2 separate regions of the Homo sapiens genome follow, and region 1 is linked to region 2. Evidence: fine-mapped expression QTL. A gene starts in region 2. The other region holds a variant in brackets. All regions are shown on one strand. Distances are from middle to middle.

Region 1 (9,500 bases), 36 kb after region 2:
AAGGAGCTCTCAGTCTAATCGGCACTCAGATATTCTACTTTTTCTTCTGCTTCTGGCTGATCTCTGTCTTCTTTTTTTCCTGGTGGAATTTGTATCTTCTTTGTCTACTAGAAATAAATACTCAAATTATGAAGCATAAGTTGATAGTCTTATTTTATTACTCTCACCATTAGATGACAGCATTCTGAAATCAGAGCTTGGAAACCAGTCACCATCAACCTCCAGCCGACGTAAGTTTATGTATTCAGTTTTTATTAAATATTTCTGTAAAATTGGTATTCCATAATTGTTTAAAAATGTTTTTTGACAGCAGTATGACTCGATGCTATTTGAAGAATCACATTTTAAGCACTTGAGAGGAAAAAGTATATATTCTACTAGCAGTGAAATTCTTTATAGACAAACTTTATGAGACAACATCTGGTATTGCTCTTCACTTAACTGTCTATAAGACCAAAAATAATAGCTAAAATAAGTAAAGCTACTAATACTGTTAACTGAGAAAACCATGCTGAATTGAAAGAAAGTTAGCCAGAGCATGACTTTATGGGATTACAATGGCTTTCGGAGTCTGCAAACCTGTATTTGAACTAGATTGGACCACTTACCTCCTTTACAGCCTTGTGGCAAGTTTCTTTAGTTCTCCAAGTCTTATTGTCCTGAAAGAGTACTAAGAAAATAACTTAATGGGCTGAGCGTGGTGGCTCATGCCTGTAATCTCAGCACTTTGGGAGGCCAAGGCAGGCGGATCATGAGATCAAGAGATCGAAACCATCCTGGCCAACATGGTGAAACCCCATCTCTACTAAAAATACAAAAATTAGCTGGGCGTGGTGGCACACGCCTGTTGTCCCACCTACTCAGGAGGCTGAGGCAGGAGAATCACTTGAACCCAGGAAGCGGAGGTTGCAGTGAGCCGAGATTGTGCCACTGCACTCCAGCCTGGCAACAGAGCGAGACTCTGTCTCAAAAAAAAAAAAAAAAGAAAATAGATTAATGATGATTCTGAAATTTTTTGTTCTTGGTACCGCTTTACACTAGTAAAGTTATTAAGAACCTCAAAGAGCTTTTTGTTGAAAATATGGGTTATGTCTATCCATATGTACCAGGAAATTAAAGTTGAAACATTTTTTAAAATATGTATTAATTTATTTTAAAATAATTTAGCAAGAAGAGTAACAGATCAGATTGCTTTGCATTTTTTCTAATCTCTTTAATGCCTAGCTTTAAAAAATGGATTTGGATTATCATATATGCTTCTGTATGCAGTCTGTTACAATATATTATTTTTGTTGAAGTATCTACAAAAAATCCAGCTTTTATACAGATATGAAAAATTTTAATAGCCTCTTCAGATAATTGTGGCTATTCTTTTTTGAACTCTCCAAAACTCAACAAGTGGTAGTTTCTTAAATGTTACTTGAAATAGGATATCTAAAACCATCTTACTGAGCTTTTAGTACTCTATTACATTAAAAGTCATTGGTCTTTCTTATACTTTGAATGGAGTATCATGCACTGGTCATTTGGAAAACATTGGTTCACTGAGGAATGCAGATTTTCCAAACATTGACACATTAGGAATGTAATAAAAAATATCACATTTGTTAACATCACTGCCAATCTCAAGACTTTAAAAAAGTGTTAAAGGGTGGGGTTCGTGGCCCATGCCTGTAATCCCAACATTTTGGGAGGCCCAGGCGGATGGATCACCTGAGGTCAGGAGTTCAAGACCAGCCTGGCCAACATGGCAAAACCCTGTCTCTACTAGAAATACAAAAACATTAGCTGGGAATGGTGGCACGCACCTGTAATCCCAGCTACTTAGGAGGCTGAGGCAGGAGAATCACTTGAACCTGGGAGGCAGAGGTTGCAGTGAGCCAAGATCGCACCACTTCATGTCATCCTGGGCCACAGAGCGAGACTCCATCTCAGAAAAAAAAAAGAAAGTGTTAAAGTACAATATTGGGAGTTGTCAAGCTCATGGTGGCAGATTTAGGATTCTAAAATCCTAATTTTCACTTGAAAGCAAATATCTGCCAAATACACAAGTCTGACTGTAGTTTGTTACTTGTTCTTTCAAGTAAAAAATAGTATTCCATGAAAAATGTGCTAATTCGCCTTGTAATTCATTTGCACAAAATTCTTTTCCTTGAGACAACCATGGTACTGTATGATGCAGCAGAAGTGCTTTGTGCATACCTTCCATTTGTTCAGAAAGAATATTGACATATGTACTCAAGGATTCAGATTTAATAAGATAAATAATTAACTGCTTCATAAAGGACATTCTTAAGTAAAAGAATGTCCCTTTGTTAAATCTTGAATGCATGGCAGTGAAAAATAACAATGACTACACTCGTACAGTTTGGTGCCACTGCCCTGTAACTCATGCTAAGGCATCAGAAGTTTTTCTCACCATAGCTTTTGCGTCATCAGTGCAAATGTCAACACAAGGTGAAAGTCAAATAACATCTTAGTGTTAGAAGAATAGCTTTAACTTCATGGACCCCCCTCCCCACAAAATAGGGTCTTGAGGTACCCCACAGACCACGCCTTGAGAATTGCTGCTCTAAAAGGTCCCTACTAAAATTAATAGCCTGAAACAGTCAATAAGTAAAAGATGTAAAAGTATTATTGTTACTATCAACTGAATAAATGAAGTAGAATATGAGAAAGTACTTTATAAACCGAAAAGCACTAGATAAATATAAATTAATCCTATTATTATTGCCAATAGTAACTAGGGATGAGTCACAAACTAAATTTTACCAGTGTTAACTTGCATACCACAAAAGGCATCAGTGAAATTAATCTAAAGGGACAGCTAGCTATTATAACACGTAGAAGATGTTCATTTATATTGCATCCTTTTCTTTTTTTTTTTTTTTTTTTTTGAGATGGAATCTCTCTCTGTCACCCAGGCTGGAGTGCAGTGGCGTGATCTCGGCTCACTGCAACCTCCGCCTCCCGTGTTCAAGTGATTCTCCTGCCTCAGCCTCCCAAGTAGCTGGACTACAGGTGTGTGCCACCACACCCAGCTAGTTTTTTGTATTTTCAGTAGAGACGGGGTTTCACAGTCTCGATCTCCTGACCTCGTGATCCTCCCTCCTCGGCCTCCCAAAGTGCTGGGACTACAGGCATGAGCCACCACTTCCAGCCTGCATCCTTTTCTTTATCCCTTTATGTACTTCAGAAATATTTCACCTTGAATAATTAGCCATGTGAATGCTGAGTTACTAAATTAAAAAAATATTTTATAAATTGTATTTTAATAGTCTATTCTCCCAACTATTAGCAGTGAAAATAATAACTTCGCTTTATAAACTATTATTTTTCTGACTTGTTTATGCCATTTCATATGTTTAAAAACTTTTTTCCTCAAAGACTTATTTTTATATTGAAGAGACATATGCATATTTGTACACATAATTCAAAGCCTATGCATGTAAGATTTTCTTGAGAATGTGATAAATTATTTTATTAAGAAAATTATCAGCTTTCTTCTTTAAAGTCCTTCCTCTTTTACCTAATGTTTATAAAGACTGATATTGATTTTAAAAGTCACTTGCCCCTGAATCTAAGAAAGTGGTATTTATATCTGTCATTTCTTTTTTGTCTGAGTAGAAGTGACTGGACAACCCCAAAATGCATCTTTTGTCAAGAGGAACCGGTGGTGGCTACTTCCTCTGATAGCTGCTCTTGCCTCTGGGAGTTTTTGGTTCTTTAGTACTCCTGAGGTAGAAACCACTGCTGTTCAAGAGTTCCAGAACCAGATGAATCAACTTAAGAATAAGTACCAAGGTCAAGATGAGAAGCTGTGGAAAAGGAGCCAAACATTCCTGGAAAAACATCTTAATAGCTCCCATCCTCGGTCTCAGCCTGCTATCTTACTGCTCACTGCTGCCCGAGATGCTGAAGAAGCACTTAGGTGTCTGAGTGAACAAATTGCTGATGCCTATTCTTCTTTTCGTAGTGTCCGTGCCATCCGGATTGATGGGACAGATAAAGCTACTCAAGACAGTGATACTGTCAAACTAGAGGTAGACCAAGAACTGAGCAATGGATTTAAGAATGGCCAGAATGCAGCTGTGGTACACCGCTTTGAGTCATTTCCCGCAGGCTCTACTTTGATCTTCTACAAATATTGTGACCATGAAAACGCGGCCTTCAAAGATGTAGCCTTAGTCCTGACTGTCTTATTGGAGGAAGAGACACTTGGAACAAGTCTAGGCCTAAAGGAAGTTGAAGAAAAAGTAAGAGATTTTCTTAAAGTCAAGTTCACCAATTCTAACACACCCAACTCCTACAATCATATGGACCCAGACAAACTGAATGGCCTCTGGAGCCGTATTTCTCACTTAGTTCTGCCTGTGCAACCTGAAAATGCCCTGAAAAGGGGCATCTGCTTATAAGAAGTGAGAGAGAAGAAAAATCATGTCCCAAGTTCTGAGAATTGTTCACACTTTCTAACCAGAGACAGAATTCAGAGCTCTTTTTGAAAGAACTAGTTTCTTTTTAAAGAAGTTAAGTGCTTACATAAACATGGAACATATAAATCATTCATTCAACCTAATTATCTGTGATATGAGAGAATCATTTCAGTTTCCATTGAGAGCTCTGTTAAAGGTATCTTAGGAGTGCAGATTATATGCAGTTCCTTAGAGAATCTGTTTTGATTCTGGGCTGAGTTATTACAGTTATGGTATGACCAGTGAGAGGGATTTGTGTCCTTTCTTATGAACCTTCCTGATTTTTTAACTTAGATTTCTCACTAAGTTTCCTGAGTTATTAGTAAGATTGCTCCCTAAATGTAACCAGGGATTTT[C/T]CCATTATGTTCCCTTTTATACCATTTAGGTGTGAGTTCCTTAGCTTCTGCCTATAGGAACATAAGTAATGAAAGGTCATCTAGGTGTGTGTTTGGAATTTTTTTCTTTTGTTTTTTGGAAAATGGAAAGAACAAGGCAAGGAAGGAAAATTAATGGGGAAGCTGAAGGGAGGAAATGTTACAGTAATCCACTGAGATGTAGTTTAGTCAAACATAGGTATATGAACTGTTAATCTTGGTGGATTCCGTTGGGATTTGTTTTTTACATCTCCTTTTTCCTTCCTTGAAGAAAAATTCTTGGCTGTCCCAAGGATTCTTCATGTATATTGCAAAATTTAATATATTTGTTCACTTGAGTCTTAAGAGTAGGTCAGGCCAAGGCAGGTGGATCACCTGAGGTCAGAAGTTCAAGACCAGCCTGGCCAACATGGTGAAACCCCGTCTCTACTAAAAATACAAAAATTAGCTGGGCGTGGTGGTGCATGCCTGAAATCCCAGCTACTTGGGAGGCTGAGGCAGGAGAATTGCTTGAACCCGGGAGGCGGAGGTTGCAGTAAGCCGAGACCATGCTTATTGCCCTCCAGTCTGGGCAACAAAAATGAAACTCCGTCTCAAAAAAAAAAAAGTAGGTCAATTCGTAACAGTTTATTTTGGACACACCCTGAAGCTTTTGTTTTGAATTAAGAAATGAGTTTCAGGAATTGACAAACCATTTGTTAACCAGCTGTCCTGGGCTATTGAAGAAGATTTCATTTTCCGCGCATCCACTTGTTGCAGTCCAAGTCCTCTAGTGCAACGCCATAGCAAATATAAAGATTTACTATGCACGTGATACATTTTATGGAGTGCCTCAAGCCAAGATAGTGAATTTATATGAAGGGTGTGAAATGTATTTCTTTACTACTATAGTAGTTTAGTTATAACTTTGCATCTATAATTGAGCTTTCTCATCTGTCAAATGCTATGGTTTTCTTAAAATGTTACAATTCTAGATCTATCCACCTTGTTTTTTTATTGTCTACAAACCATTAAATGTAAATATTGTTTTTAGAGTCAGTCATTGGCTTTGTCATTTACCCTTTGAGAGTTCCACAAGTGGTAGTAGAGTGGTTTAACGTCTTTCCTCTAGTACTACCAGTATTCATAAATGTATACCCCTTACTGTAATTTGTTCCTCTTAGAAGTCAGATCATCTGATTTATAGAGGATTATGAAAACCAGAGTTTTTGAAAAGGCTTATTTTATACATACGTATTATATAGAGAAACAAATGTTTTTATTAAATGTTTCATTGACCCAAGTAATTTAAAAGTAATATGTTACCTATGTCTTTCAGGAAAAATAATTATAGCAGCTGATCTGTAAATGACTTTAAAAGCTATTTTAGTAATTTAAATAAATTTACTTTCTTGGTTTATACTCTCTATGTGTTATAAACTTAATGATTTATCATCTTTAAAAAAAGAAATCCAAGTATTTTCCTTGAACAATTGTAGCAACTCTGGCTAGGAGAAACAAAAATCAAAGAACTGGAGCCATTTGCAAGTACATTGGTTAGAAGTGGAATAGCCGTAACTTTCCATTTTATCTCGGCACTTAGGGTTTTTAAAAATACAGTTAAGTTAGATATTCCTGACTTAGCAAAAGAATCTCCACAGCAGCTTTTCTTTTTTTTTTTTTTAAGTAGACATGGGATCTCGCTATATTGCCCAGGCTGTTTTTGAACTCTTGGCCTCAAGCAGTCCTCCTGCCTAAGCCTCCTAAGTAGCTGGGATTACAGGCATAAGTCACTACACCTGGCTTCTTAACCTTTTCTTTATCACCTCCCTGAAGAACTTTTTTAGATTTTTTTCTTAGTCACCCCTTCCCCATGATATTTCAACACCAGATATATACTATGTATCTGTTTATGGACTGTAAATGTTTTTTGCTTTATACAAAATAGAATTTTTTTTTGTCCCCAATGAACCAATTTTCACCCCCATTGAGAATGCATGCTCAAGAGCATCCACGTTTTAGATAATTGCTGCCTAAAATGTTCTATTTGCTATTCATGTTACTGTGATCCTTTTAGAAGGGAAAATTTATTTTTTATTTTTTTTATTTTTTATTTTTTTTATTTTTGAGACAATCTCACTCTTGCCCAGGCTGGAGTGCAGTGGCGCAATCTCGGCTCACTGCAACCTCCGCCTCCCATGTTCAAGTGATTCTTCTGCCTCAGCCTCCCGAGTAGCTGGGATTACAGGTTCACACCACCATGCCCGGCTAATTTTTTGTATTTTTAGTAGAGACGGAGTTTCACCATGTTGGCCAGGCTGGTCTTGAACTCCTGACCTCAGGTGATCCACCTGCCTTGGCCTCCCAAAGTGCTGGGATTACAGGCATGAGCCGCGGAGCCTGGCCTAGAAAGGAAAATTTAAGTAAGATACCAGCTTCAGAATAGGAGCTAGGGTCTAGAGAAATGGAGCACATTGTAACTGGCTGACAACAGTGGCCCAGGAAAACCACAGTAACTTAATTTGAAACTTAATTTGCTTCCCTTGTTTTAATGACTTTTTAATATTTAAAGATGTTTTCTAAACCTCTAATCCTCAAAACAAAAATTGGAAGTAAACTGATTTTCATTCAGTGAACTGCCATTTAGAAGTGATAGGGGTTTACATACTTTGTACCATTAGTTAACGCCTAAGCTAAAAGTATAATATCCAGTTTCCCTATGATCTCAAGTTTATGGAAAGTAGCCTTTCTTTTGGCAGTGTAAACAAGCAGTTACATTAAATACGTAAAGATAATGCATTATTCTGCTATTTTGTCCTTATCAAGATCATGTAGTAAAATTTTGTGGTATAAGAGGATAGTGTTTTTCCCTAAGGAAGAGGATTTTATTGGCATTAACCACCAAAGATGGGGTTCCTGAGCCTGGAAAACCAAGCTGAGAAGGCTGCCATTGACTGGAAAAGGAGGAAATTCCTCCCTTGAATGCCCTCTTTCTGGCCTGGATTCTGAGAATTCCTTGTGTGTTTAAGGACCCTTGTGGGTGGTAGAGAAACTAGTTCCTGTCACCTGAGCATAAACAGAAGAACCCCTTTGTACTCTACACCCCAGACATAATGAACTACTTGCAATTTCCTAAACACATCATTCACTTGTCTTTTGCACATTCTTAGACTCTTGGAATACTTCATTTCCTGCCCTCTCGCTTTCTCCAATCTCATGTTCTGCTAATTTTTATTTGTCCTTAAAGTCTTCGTTTTCTTAGGGCAGCACTTCAGTGAAATCTTTCATAATTCCCTTCCCCCAGATACTATTTTAGGTGCCTCCTGTTTTTTTTCTTTCTTTCTTTCTTTCTTTCTTTTTTCTTTTTCTTTTTTTGGTAGCTTAAACAATAAGACCTTTATTGTTACAAAACCCAGCAGCGTGAGGAGTTCCTGGGTTGGGTGAATTAGAGGCTGGAAAAATTCATCGCAAGCATTACAAGATAACCAATGATACCCCTGATGAAAGAAAACCTCTGCAAACTGCTAGCTGAAGCCAGCTCCTGTCCTTTTATCCAAAACTGGGTAGTGTCCAGCCAAACCATTTTGGGGGTTGAATGAGTCACTTCAAAGGGCTCAAATGACTGGTGAATCTTCCAGATAAAAGGAGAGAACACAGACTTTCCTGCGCATTTTAAAGTGACTGAGGTGCTCCACACTCTGATTTATCCTTTATTACCCTGTGGCAGCATTAGCATACCCCTGCTACCACATGCATCTTGCAAGCAGTGATGTGTCATCAATATATGCACCGTGGCAATCACAGAATGCTCAAATATTTATTGAATAAAAAGAGCAAGCCATACCTAATTATAGCTAGGTAAGTTGCATCTTAGTGTTTTATTTGCTTTCCCCACCCCCATCCCCCATTACGCCTAAGCCCTATCTAAAAGTTGTATATAACTCATCTGGGTTTAGCAATGCTATGAATAAGGAAAAACAAAGAGGACCAATCTACGCCGTGGAAGGGAAATGCACTTCTCTGATAGAGACAGTGATCATTACAGGTCCTCAAGGGAAAGGTGGAATATCAAGGGAAAAGACTGGGAAGCTGTGAGGTCTTTCCACAGTGATATTTGGCATTTGCATTTTCTAAAAATAGCTAGCAAGTATTCTTCCATCTTTTTCTGTTGCCTAAGAGGGTATTATAATTCAGATAAAAGATGGCTATGGATGTACGAACAAGATGGATAAGAAAAATATTCGAGAATTAGAACTGACCAGATTTGATTGACTGTAGAAGTGCTGAAAATTTCTCTTTCTTCTGTTTAGCTCATATATCTTCTCCCCAGATACTAAGCATAAAGTGATAGACTAAATTCCTATCTCTGCATGTCAATATGTTGACTTTTAGTTTGAAGTAGAGCCACACATATTTGGTCAGAAATTGATTGTAGAGAATAAAAACCCTGTCCAACCAGGAAATGAGCAAAAGAGGGCTGGGGTGAAGATTGCAAGAATATACATCTCAGACTCCAGGAAAAGGAAAATACAGGAACTGTGAAGACTGTTTTCATTTGGAGACCAGCAGCCATTCCCTCTGTCTCTCTATTGCTGCTACCCAATTAGCAACTTCCCCTTTGTGACTTAAATGCCAAAAAGATGACATTAATGGCTCAATTCAGTGTATGAAGGAT
Region 2 (9,500 bases):
ACCATGTCCTGGAACACACCCTCTGTGCCATTAAGAGGAGCATGTAATCCAATGAGTTGCCTAATCTAAACCTCAGTTTGCTCGTGTGTCAAATGGGGACAACGTTACTTACCTCATAAGTTTGTTATTAGTAGATTAGATGACGTATGCAGCATTTCTGTTAAATGACAGTAGTGACAAAAAATAGCTGTTTTGATCTACTAATTTTATAAATGTGAAAATTAAGAGATGGCGAGCAATTTACCCAAGAACATACAATTTGTTGGGGGAAAAATGAAGTAAGTCTAAAATTCCTGTTCTTGACCTACAGCAATTCAGGACAAATCTAACCAAATTTCAAGAAGAAATCTATTCATGTAAAACTCCCTTCCCCTTTCCTCTTTTTTTTCCCATAACAGTCCTGACCAACACACTATTTTACTTATTTTGATTTTTGCCCGACTCCTCCCATAGAATATAATCTCCAAGAAGGCAGGAAACATTTTTTGTCTTTTAGTCTATTTTGTTCACTGCTGTATCCCCAGCACAGAGAACAGGGACTGCCTACTACACAGTAGCTCAAGTATTTATTGAATTAATAATTCCTCATTTAATGTGATTTTTGGTGCCTTCACTTCTCAATCACCCTCTCTTGGCAGAAGTGACAGGATTTGGTAACACTCTTGGATGGTGTTTAATAATTAACTGCAAGTCCTAATTCAACAAAAAGAATACTATATTCCATTCACTTTATTGTGTTTAATTAATTTCAGTATAACATTTCCAGGAATTTTCATTTGTATTGTCATTAAAATATTTTTCTATCATTTGTAAGACTGGGGAATAAATGGAGCCAGCTACTATGTCTTTAATTAACTTCCTCCTGTTTAATATTTTAATCATCTTTTCCTTATTAAAATTGTTTGCCTACTTCATTTGTACTACTAAGTCACAACGGATAGATTTATCTCTTTAAATAAATGAACTTCTGCTTACCCTAAAGCAAAAAGTTCCTGTACAAAAAATTTATTGTTCTAAAATGTTTCATTTAAAATAATTATTTTGGCCAGGCGTGGTGGCTCACACCTGTAATCCCAGCACTTTGGAAGGCCAAGGCGGATGGATCACCTGAGGTCAGGAGTTCAAGACCAGCCTTGCCAACATGGCAAAATCCATGTCTACTAAAAATACAAAAATTAGCTGGGCATGGTGGCAGGCACCTGTAATCCCAGCTACTCGGGAGGCTGAGGCAGGAGGATCACTTGAACCTGGAGTTGGGGGAGGCTGCAGTAAGCCGAGATTGCACCACTGCACTCCAGCCTAGGCGAAAGAGCGAGACTCCGTCTCTAAATAAATAAATTAATTAAAAATGAAATAAAATAACTGATTTAGGAACCCAGTCTCAAGAGCACAGGATTTCCAGACCTAGCCCTAATAGTTAAGTGTGTGAATTAATGCCATTTAATCTGAATTGTAATTTTTCGTGTTTCTGTCGTTCCCAATAAATGACAAATTCCCTAAAGATAGTCTTCCTCATTGCTGGCACACGTTTGATAAGTAAATGAATTATTAAGTGTATTCTTTGTTTTAATCATTTCTTTTCTTACCGGTCTTCTTTTTTGGGTCACTGAATTCCTCCAGATTTCTCAAATTCCCAAAGTAACTTTAATATCCAGAGCTGAGGCATCCTTTTTTAGTGGCCCAGCGCATCCCTTATAATATTGGCTATGACTCTACTGTCACTGTAATGTCACCTCTTTTCAGCCACTCTTATAGTCTGGATAATAGCTACAGCAGAGTATCTAGTTTCATAACAGTTTAGCTTTGCCTCAGAGCTAGTGATGAAAGTTTCGTATCTGTAAGGTTTCTAGGTGAAGGAGGCAGTCACAGTAGAGGTAGGTTTCCTTATGCTTACAACCTAGATGAGAGGGAAAATCCGATGCATATATATATGTGTGTGTGTGTGTGTGTGTGTGTGTGTGTGTTAGCATTAAAGTTACCATACCTCTAATTTTACAGTAAGTGTCTCATTAATTTAGTTGAAAGGCCATTCCTAAGCCTTTACAAGCAGTTTTAATTACAAAATATGCATATTCTGATTATTCAATAATATGCAGAACCTCTCCTCTGATTGTTCAATATGTAGAATCTCTTGTCTCTTTTTTAATTTGTCCCTCAAACCTAAGTTTTACAAGCCTGTATCCAAGTTTTATAAGCTAGTATCCCAGTTTCTACATAGTCATCTGTCTTGGTAAAATGTTTCAAGGAGACTTTAATGTTCATAATATGAACTCAATATATTACTATAAAATTTATATTTAATAATTAAATCTATTAAGGAACTTATACTATTGTGTTACTAATGAGTAATGTAATAGCCACTTTAAAGAGAAAGCCCTGCTTAAAACATAAATAAAAGCCACGTATTACCATATCAATACTTTTGAGCATTTTGTTGGAAGAGTAAATCTAGCTAATTTCCGAAATATACCATCTAATCCAGACTGACAAGGAAGAGTATCCTTTTCATTTTTCCTTAAAAGACAAGAAGAAAGAAGAAAGAGAGACAGAAAAGAAAGAAAGAAGTCTCTCTTTTGTTACTGCAGTTTTTAAAAGCTATATTGTACATAAAGCTACAGTAAACTAAGCTCCTAACAGGCCAAACCTTATCTCACTCTAAAACTGTAATTCCTCCTGCCTGTGGCCAAATTTATGGACAATATTAGTAAAAACATAGTACACAGTCGGGCAGGGTGGCTCACGCCTGTAATCCCAGCACTTTGGGAGGCCGAGAGGCGGATCACGAGGTCAGGAGATCGAGACCATCCTGGCTAACACGGTGAAACCCTGTCTCTACTAAAAATACAAAAAAATTAGCCGGGCGTGGCGGCATGCGCCTGTAGTCCCAGCTGCTGGGGAGGCTGAAGCAGGAGAATGGCGTGAATCCGGGAGGCAGAGGTTGCAGTGAGCCGAGATCGCGCCACTGGACTCCAGCCTGGGTGACAGAGCAAGACTCCGTCTCAAAAAAAATAAAATAAAAATAAAAATAAAATAAAAACATAGTACACATTACGACTTAAGTAGTTGAAATTTGTGCCAAGTTTGAGCAACAAATGAGTTGCTCAAAAACATTTTAAGGTGATTACTTGGAAGAATAAACAAACACCTTCAAACTTTTCAGAATCGCTCATTGTAACTGGTATCCAAATTACAATTTTTTAAATCTATTCACTCCAATCATACAAAGCCCTACAAGCAGTTGTATATTTGAAGGCAATTTAAGCTTTCTTTCAATAATTATTCAGACTTTACACGAACTTAATCGACCTTCTCTGAATGTGTCTAAATTTGGTTAGGTATTTGCAGATTAGCCACATCTGTAAACATTTGTATAAGGAGGTGAAACAAATAGATTTTACCATGCTTTCTTATTCCATAAAGTCCATAAAGCATTCTAAATCAAATGTAGAGTATCACGTCACATCCAGAATAAAAGTAAAAATAATGGATCACAACTTAAAATTACAGTGCTGTCTTTAATTAAAAAACTTGTTCATTTCTCACTGTGCACAATGTAGCACTAACATGGTCTTCCGAACACTGCTGCTTGGTATAAAACCGAGAAATATTAAAGACCAGGAATAAGGTTATGTGTCCTATGGGTACATTTCGGAAAAGAAAATACATCCAACGAGTATGACTCTAGATAGGATTTTGTACACCCTCAACAAGTGACAAAATTCAAAACTAGGTAACCGCCCTCATAAGGTACTTGAAACTAAAATTTTTGCCACGAAAACATGGCATGTGCAAAAGTTCTCTCTCTGGCCATCACTCCTGCTAAGGACACTGGGAAGGACATGGTCAACGTAGCAGTCGATCAAAAAGATTCCAGGGAAACTGCGCAACAGCCTGGGGCCGAGAAGCGAAACTTGGGTCTTCTCCACCCTCGTCGCACTCCTTTTCCCCGAGACTTGGTACTGGGAGATAGGACGGGAGTCTCCTACACGCAGTCAACACTTGCCACGAGCGGCTAGACTTAGGACAGGCAAGTTGCCCTGCCATCCTTCTATCGCCCCCACCCCTCCTTTACTTAAGGGCGATGGCAGAGACGTCCTCCTCCCCCTTCTCCTCCTCTTTGGTGCCTCCAGCCAGGAGGCGGGAGCGATCCACAGCAGCTGACCCAGCTCAGGCACTGCCTCTCTCACAGCCCTCAAGACACACCATGGGCCCAGAGGCAGGTTTGCTACACAGCAGCGACGACGCAGGCGGCGGCCCCAGCGACTCGCAACTGCCTCCCTGACCACAGCGGCCACCGCCCAACACCCCCGAGAAGCCATCGCCACCACCGGCAGGAGAACCTAGGGTCCATAAAGCCATCTTCGCGATCGACTAAAGCTACGTCAACAACTATGGCGGGCGACGGGCGGCGGGCAGAGGCGGTGCGGGAAGGATGGGGTGTGTACGTCACCCCCAGGGCCCCCATCCGAGAGGGAAGGGGCCGGCTCGCCCCTCAAAATGGCGGCAGCAGCGATGCGCCTGCGTACAGAACTCCTCCGTCGCGCCAGGGCCGGCGGGAAGTGAGGTTCTCGGACGAGCCGCCAGAAGTGTACGGCGACTTCGAGCCCCTGGTGGCCAAAGAAAGGTCCCCGGTGGGAAAACGAACCCGGCTAGAAGAGTTCCGGTCCGATTCTGCGAAAGAGGAAGTGAGAGAAAGCGCGTACTACCTTCGGTCTAGGCAGCGGAGGCAGCCGCGACCCCAGGAAACCGAGGAAATGAAGACGCGAAGGACTACCCGCCTTCAGCAGCAGCACTCAGAGCAGCCTCCGCTACAGCCGTCTCCTGTTATGACCAGGAGAGGGCTGCGGGACTCTCATTCCTCTGAAGGTGAGGACCGCGGAGGTAACAGTCCCAGCCGCGAGCCAGGGAACGCGCGGGGGCGGGCGCGCGCCTCGGTGGAGCTCATGCCCGCCTGGGTACTAAGTACTGGGATTGGCTAAAGGGTATTCCTCAGCCCCCTCTGGACTTGTGCCGCCGTGCAAGGGCCACCCTGACCCGCAGCGGGGAAGGAAGCGCCGACCGGAGGAGTGGAAAGATGGTCGTGTGGAGCGACCCGGGCAGGGCTGGGGCGCTCTGCCCAACATCGGGCATCAATTTAGGGGAGTCAGAGCTGCCTTTTTCTGCAGGCCTTCACGAGGGGACAGCGAATTACTGCAGGGTCGGTTTCATTTCGGTTCCCTCTACCCTGCGGATGTTTCTACAGAAACCACTTCCATTTCCTTCTTTAACGCTCGCGGGCCAGAGTCCCCAGCTGAGGATCTAACCTTTCAGTCTTTTTCCCTCCTCACCCAGGTGGGCAGAGAGGAAGGAGAAATTTTGTGAGTGGGCATTTCGAGGGATTGCTGAGTTTAGTGAATTGATTTGAGACCTCACCCAATACTTTCACCGAAATGGGGTAACTCATTTTTCCTGAACTGATGTTCCCCAGTGTTTGATAACTTGAGCTGATTGCTGTTTCTCCAGTGTGGTGGTCCCTGCCAAAAATCTGCCACTTTGGTGGCCGTCACTGTAACCTCAAGTAGTCTGGCAAATCAGACTGACAAAGTAACCTGAAAAACAAGACTATTAATTAGAGTTTTCGTCTAAATGGACAAAAGGGATGCTGACAAAGTGAGTGTATAGTGTTAGGTAAGTCATAGGTGAATCAGTTTCCTTAATCTATCCTCTCCCACCCTGCCCCCCCCATTTTAGGACCTAACACTGAGTCACAGATGAAGTTTCATGTTAATCCCATGTAAGGCACCTGTGAGGTAAAAATCAGCGGACCTGAGTCACAATGGGATGACATAGTTTGTGGTAGACTATTGATAGGCGGAGGAGTGGGTTTTCAGCTTAGAGCACGGTGATAGGCTGCAAGTTTACCTGCTGACTCGTGAAGGTACTGACAGATTTGAAGACTTGATTTTGGAAACTTTATGTTAAAGTTATGTCAGTTATTTTTGGGTGTAGCAACTGAAGACAGTTTAGCCCATATATGTGTTAGTTTTATCTCTTTTAAGATTACAAAGTTTTTGCAGACAAGGAGCCTATAATATATTTGATAGTAATTTAAGTACTTGGTTTAATTCAGTATTTTTCAGTACCTGGAAGAATGCTTTGTACATGGTAGGCAAAAAATATGTTACATTGTATTGAGTTCCACAGAGCCTAGTGCAGTTATACAGGCTAACTTTTTTTTAACAAGTAAAGAATTTACCCCTATTTTATTAAATCTTTAAGGATCTAAACATTTTTCACTCTTCTGCTTTCTTCCACATCATTTGTGACTCTCTACCCCATCTTTTTGATTTTCTGAAGTAATATATTTTTGTAAAACAACAATGGCAAATATTATTATATTCTGTTGAATTCATTGTATTCTGTCTCAAGAGGAGTTCTGACTGGTATATTTCCTAAGTTTTGGTAAACCTAACCACCTGTTTCTAAAGAAACGAATTTCTTGAATTTTTGCTTATGTATTGTTACAAAAATGCATAATCTGTGCCATGATCTCCCAGGTCATATATTCTGAATTTTAACTCTTGTTATGTCTGTTTTTTAGAGGATGAAGCATCTTCCCAAACTGATTTAAGCCAAACGATCTCAAAGAAAACTGTCAGGAGCATACAAGAGGCTCCAGGTAAGAATAGTTAACTTTTTGTTTTTCTCCTTACCTACCAACTTTTTAAATGTTCATTGAATTAAACAATGTAAGTATGTGTAAAGAAAAGACAAGGGCAGACACGTGAGTACTCAAGAGTACCAGCCACCCATATAACCTTGTAAGATAGGTATTATACCAATTTCATAGAAGAGAAAACTGAAACACAGAGAAGCTAAGACAATTCTGTAAGATCACATATGTGACTGAGCCAAAATTCAAACCCAGGTTTGTCTTCTCCAGAGCCCTTTTACTTTCCCCCCAAGTGCCTCACTATCATTCTCTCATGTCATAACTAGCTACTCAGTAAAATTTGTTCAATGTCAAATGAATGAATATGTTATACTGCCCTGTGTTTAAAATGGATTAACTTTTCTTCATGGTAAAATCTTGACACAGTGTGATCAGTCTTTTCAGTTTAATACTGTGGTTTATCAAATCTTAAGATGCTATCGACTATAAGAAACACCATCATTGTTTTATGTACCACCTAGCAAGGGAAAATGCTGCCAATTTTTTGGTAATTTGTAGTAATATGCCATAATTATATGATGCATCCCAATTTCAAAGATGTTAAAGTGTTTAAAAAAATTGTCAGAATCAATGTAACATGGAAGTAGGCTACATTTAATAGTTCACTTAAGTTTTAAAAGCTGATTAAAATATTTTAAAAAGCTGGAGAAGGGATCAAGTCCAGTTATTAATGCTTTGGGTTTTAGTTCCATTTAATTTTCAATTTGCTTTTTTTGATATTAGGAAAGTCTCACAATAATAAACAATCATAGCTGTTAAAACTGATAATCCTTGGTTTTTAGTACCCAGATCCTGACTTATTTACCTGTTTCTAATAAGATTATGCTTTATAATGTGAGCTATTGTATTCTAAACTTAGAATAAGTATGTCTGGTTCAAGTTGAGTTTCAAATAAAAACACCTTCATGCTAATTTTTTTTTCTTTTTTCTTTTTTGAGACAAAGTCTCGCTCTGTTGCTCAGGCTGGAGTGCAGTGGTGCCATCTCCACTCACTGCAACCTCCACCTCCCAGGTTCAAACAATTCTCCTGCCATAGCCTCCTGAGTAGCTGGGATTACAGGCGCCTGACACCACACCTGGCTAATTTTTGTATTTTTAGTAGACATAGGTTTTCACCATGTTGGCCAAGCTGGTCTCGAACTCCTGACCTCAGGTGATCCACCCGCCTTGGCCTCTCAAAGTGCTGGGATTATAGGCATCAGCCACCACGCCTGGCCTGTCCTATATTCCTTGAATAGTCTATGTTACTGTGTTAAGATTATAAACTATCTTAGAAAAATGCTTTGAATAATGATGATATAATCAGATTTTCTGGGCCATTTTGGAAAACCATAATCTTGAATTTATTTGCAGTAGATTTTATTGTATACCTGGGAAAGCAAAAATGTCTAATTTTAAATCTAGAGTAATTTATAAAAATTATGGAGTTAAGTAAATTGGTATAATGAAGACTACTGAGTGCTAGCCTCCGGACCATTATAAAACTATTAAGTAATAGAATGTCTTGAATAGTCTTTTTGGAGTTTATATTAGGCTCATATTTAAGAACTGCTAATGAGGTACACCATGGCTGCATGAGGTTGTGGCAAGAGCATTGGACCTCAGTGAAGTTACTCACTCATCTTGAGCCTTAGGCCTTTACCTGTGTTATTTGCCCTGCATAACTCACAGGGCCTCTGAAGAAATGAGATAGTACATTTGAAATCACTTTGTACCCGGTAAAACATGCAAGTGAGGTTTTTTTTTTCTCATAGCCCTTTACAAGAGATGTGAAGTTCATACAATTTTGCTTAAGTGTATCCTTTTTCTCAAGAAGCTTATGCTATAAATAGAAATTGAAAATGTTTACCAATATAAATGACAGATTAAATGGAATCTGCACATAGATTACCTGGACTGTATCAATAGCATACTGTGCCTTCAGTATTACTAGAAATAAGAGTATGTCTGTCTTTGAGAGGTTTGAGATACTCAGGGTTTTCTTCCTCTAAAAGGTGCTTTTATACTACATCTAATACTTGGCATATTCCCATCCCATGCCTCTTAATGAAAGGAGAGTTTAGGGAATTATTAAATGCTTATAAAGTCTAAGAGAAATTATTTAAATGGAGTCACTCTTTGATGGAGGACTGCTTTAAGTACAAGTTTAAGGTAAAGATAAGCCCTTCTTCCTCATAGAATGATAGACATTCAGTTTAACTTTGATATTCAAAATAGTGCTATAATTGTATATAAGGCTACCGGTGTGGTCTGACAGAAAATTATGCAAAGATGCCCTTACGAATAAAGACCTAGGCCCGGCATGGTGGCTCACGCCTGTAATCCCAGCACTTTGGGAGGCCAAGGTGGGCAGATCACGAGGTCAGGAGTTCGAGACCAGCCTGGCCAATATGGTGAAAACCCCATCTCTACTAAAAATACAAAAACTAGCCAGGCGTGGTGGTGGGCACCTGTAATCCCAGCTACTCGGGAGGCTGAGGCAGGAGAATCGCTTGAACGCGGGAGGCGGAGGTTGCAGTGAGCCGAGATCATGCCACTGCACTCCAGCCTGGGTGATGGAGCCAGAGTCCGTCTAAAAAAAAAAAATACCTAAACCAAAGGACCACCTTATAAAACAACATAGTAAAAATATCTACATCATTTGGTTATCTTGTTATTGGAAGACTTGAAAATGTTGATTAATTCAGAACAGGAATATAGTTTGAAATCTTCTCATTGTTTGAAATTCCATAATTGAGTTGTTTTCACTTAAAATAGCCGTTAGGTTGTTTAATCAATTCAGGTTATA

Alleles and levels. Alleles are on the strand shown, and positions count from the first base shown. SD is a standard deviation of normalised expression in the study named.
For the expression in fibroblasts of the gene that starts at base 4,174 in region 2, allele T in region 1 goes with a lower level than allele C (small effect, 0.19 SD a copy in GTEx).

The links. PIP is the estimated chance that this variant, and not a neighbour inherited with it, causes the effect.
Region 1: its variant is the best candidate, but not a certain one, in a credible set for the expression of TOR1AIP1 in fibroblasts (GTEx, PIP 0.85).

The regions. Positions count from the first base shown.
Region 1 is chr1:179,913,825-179,923,324 of GRCh38, forward strand. It overlaps TOR1AIP1 (torsin 1A interacting protein 1), which reads left to right. Exons shown (of 10, transcript NM_015602.4): 9 at 174-230; 10 at 3,628-6,252. The coding sequence ends at 4,415. Among named protein-coding and RNA genes, the nearest start is that of CEP350, 36 kb to the right of the region's middle. The variant C/T (reference allele first, on the strand shown) is at 4,829.
Region 2 is chr1:179,878,112-179,887,611 of GRCh38, forward strand. TOR1AIP1 (torsin 1A interacting protein 1) reads left to right here and starts at 4,174. Exons shown (of 10, transcript NM_015602.4): 1 at 4,174-4,866; 2 at 6,581-6,658. The coding sequence starts at 4,392. LOC139427322 reads left to right here and starts at 4,205. Exons shown (of 1, transcript NM_001436163.1): 1 at 4,205-4,282. The coding sequence starts at 4,205. The coding sequence ends at 4,282. RefSeq lists enhancers at 3,540-4,078, 3,991-4,100, 4,079-4,616, 4,121-4,880, 4,443-4,737 and 2 more.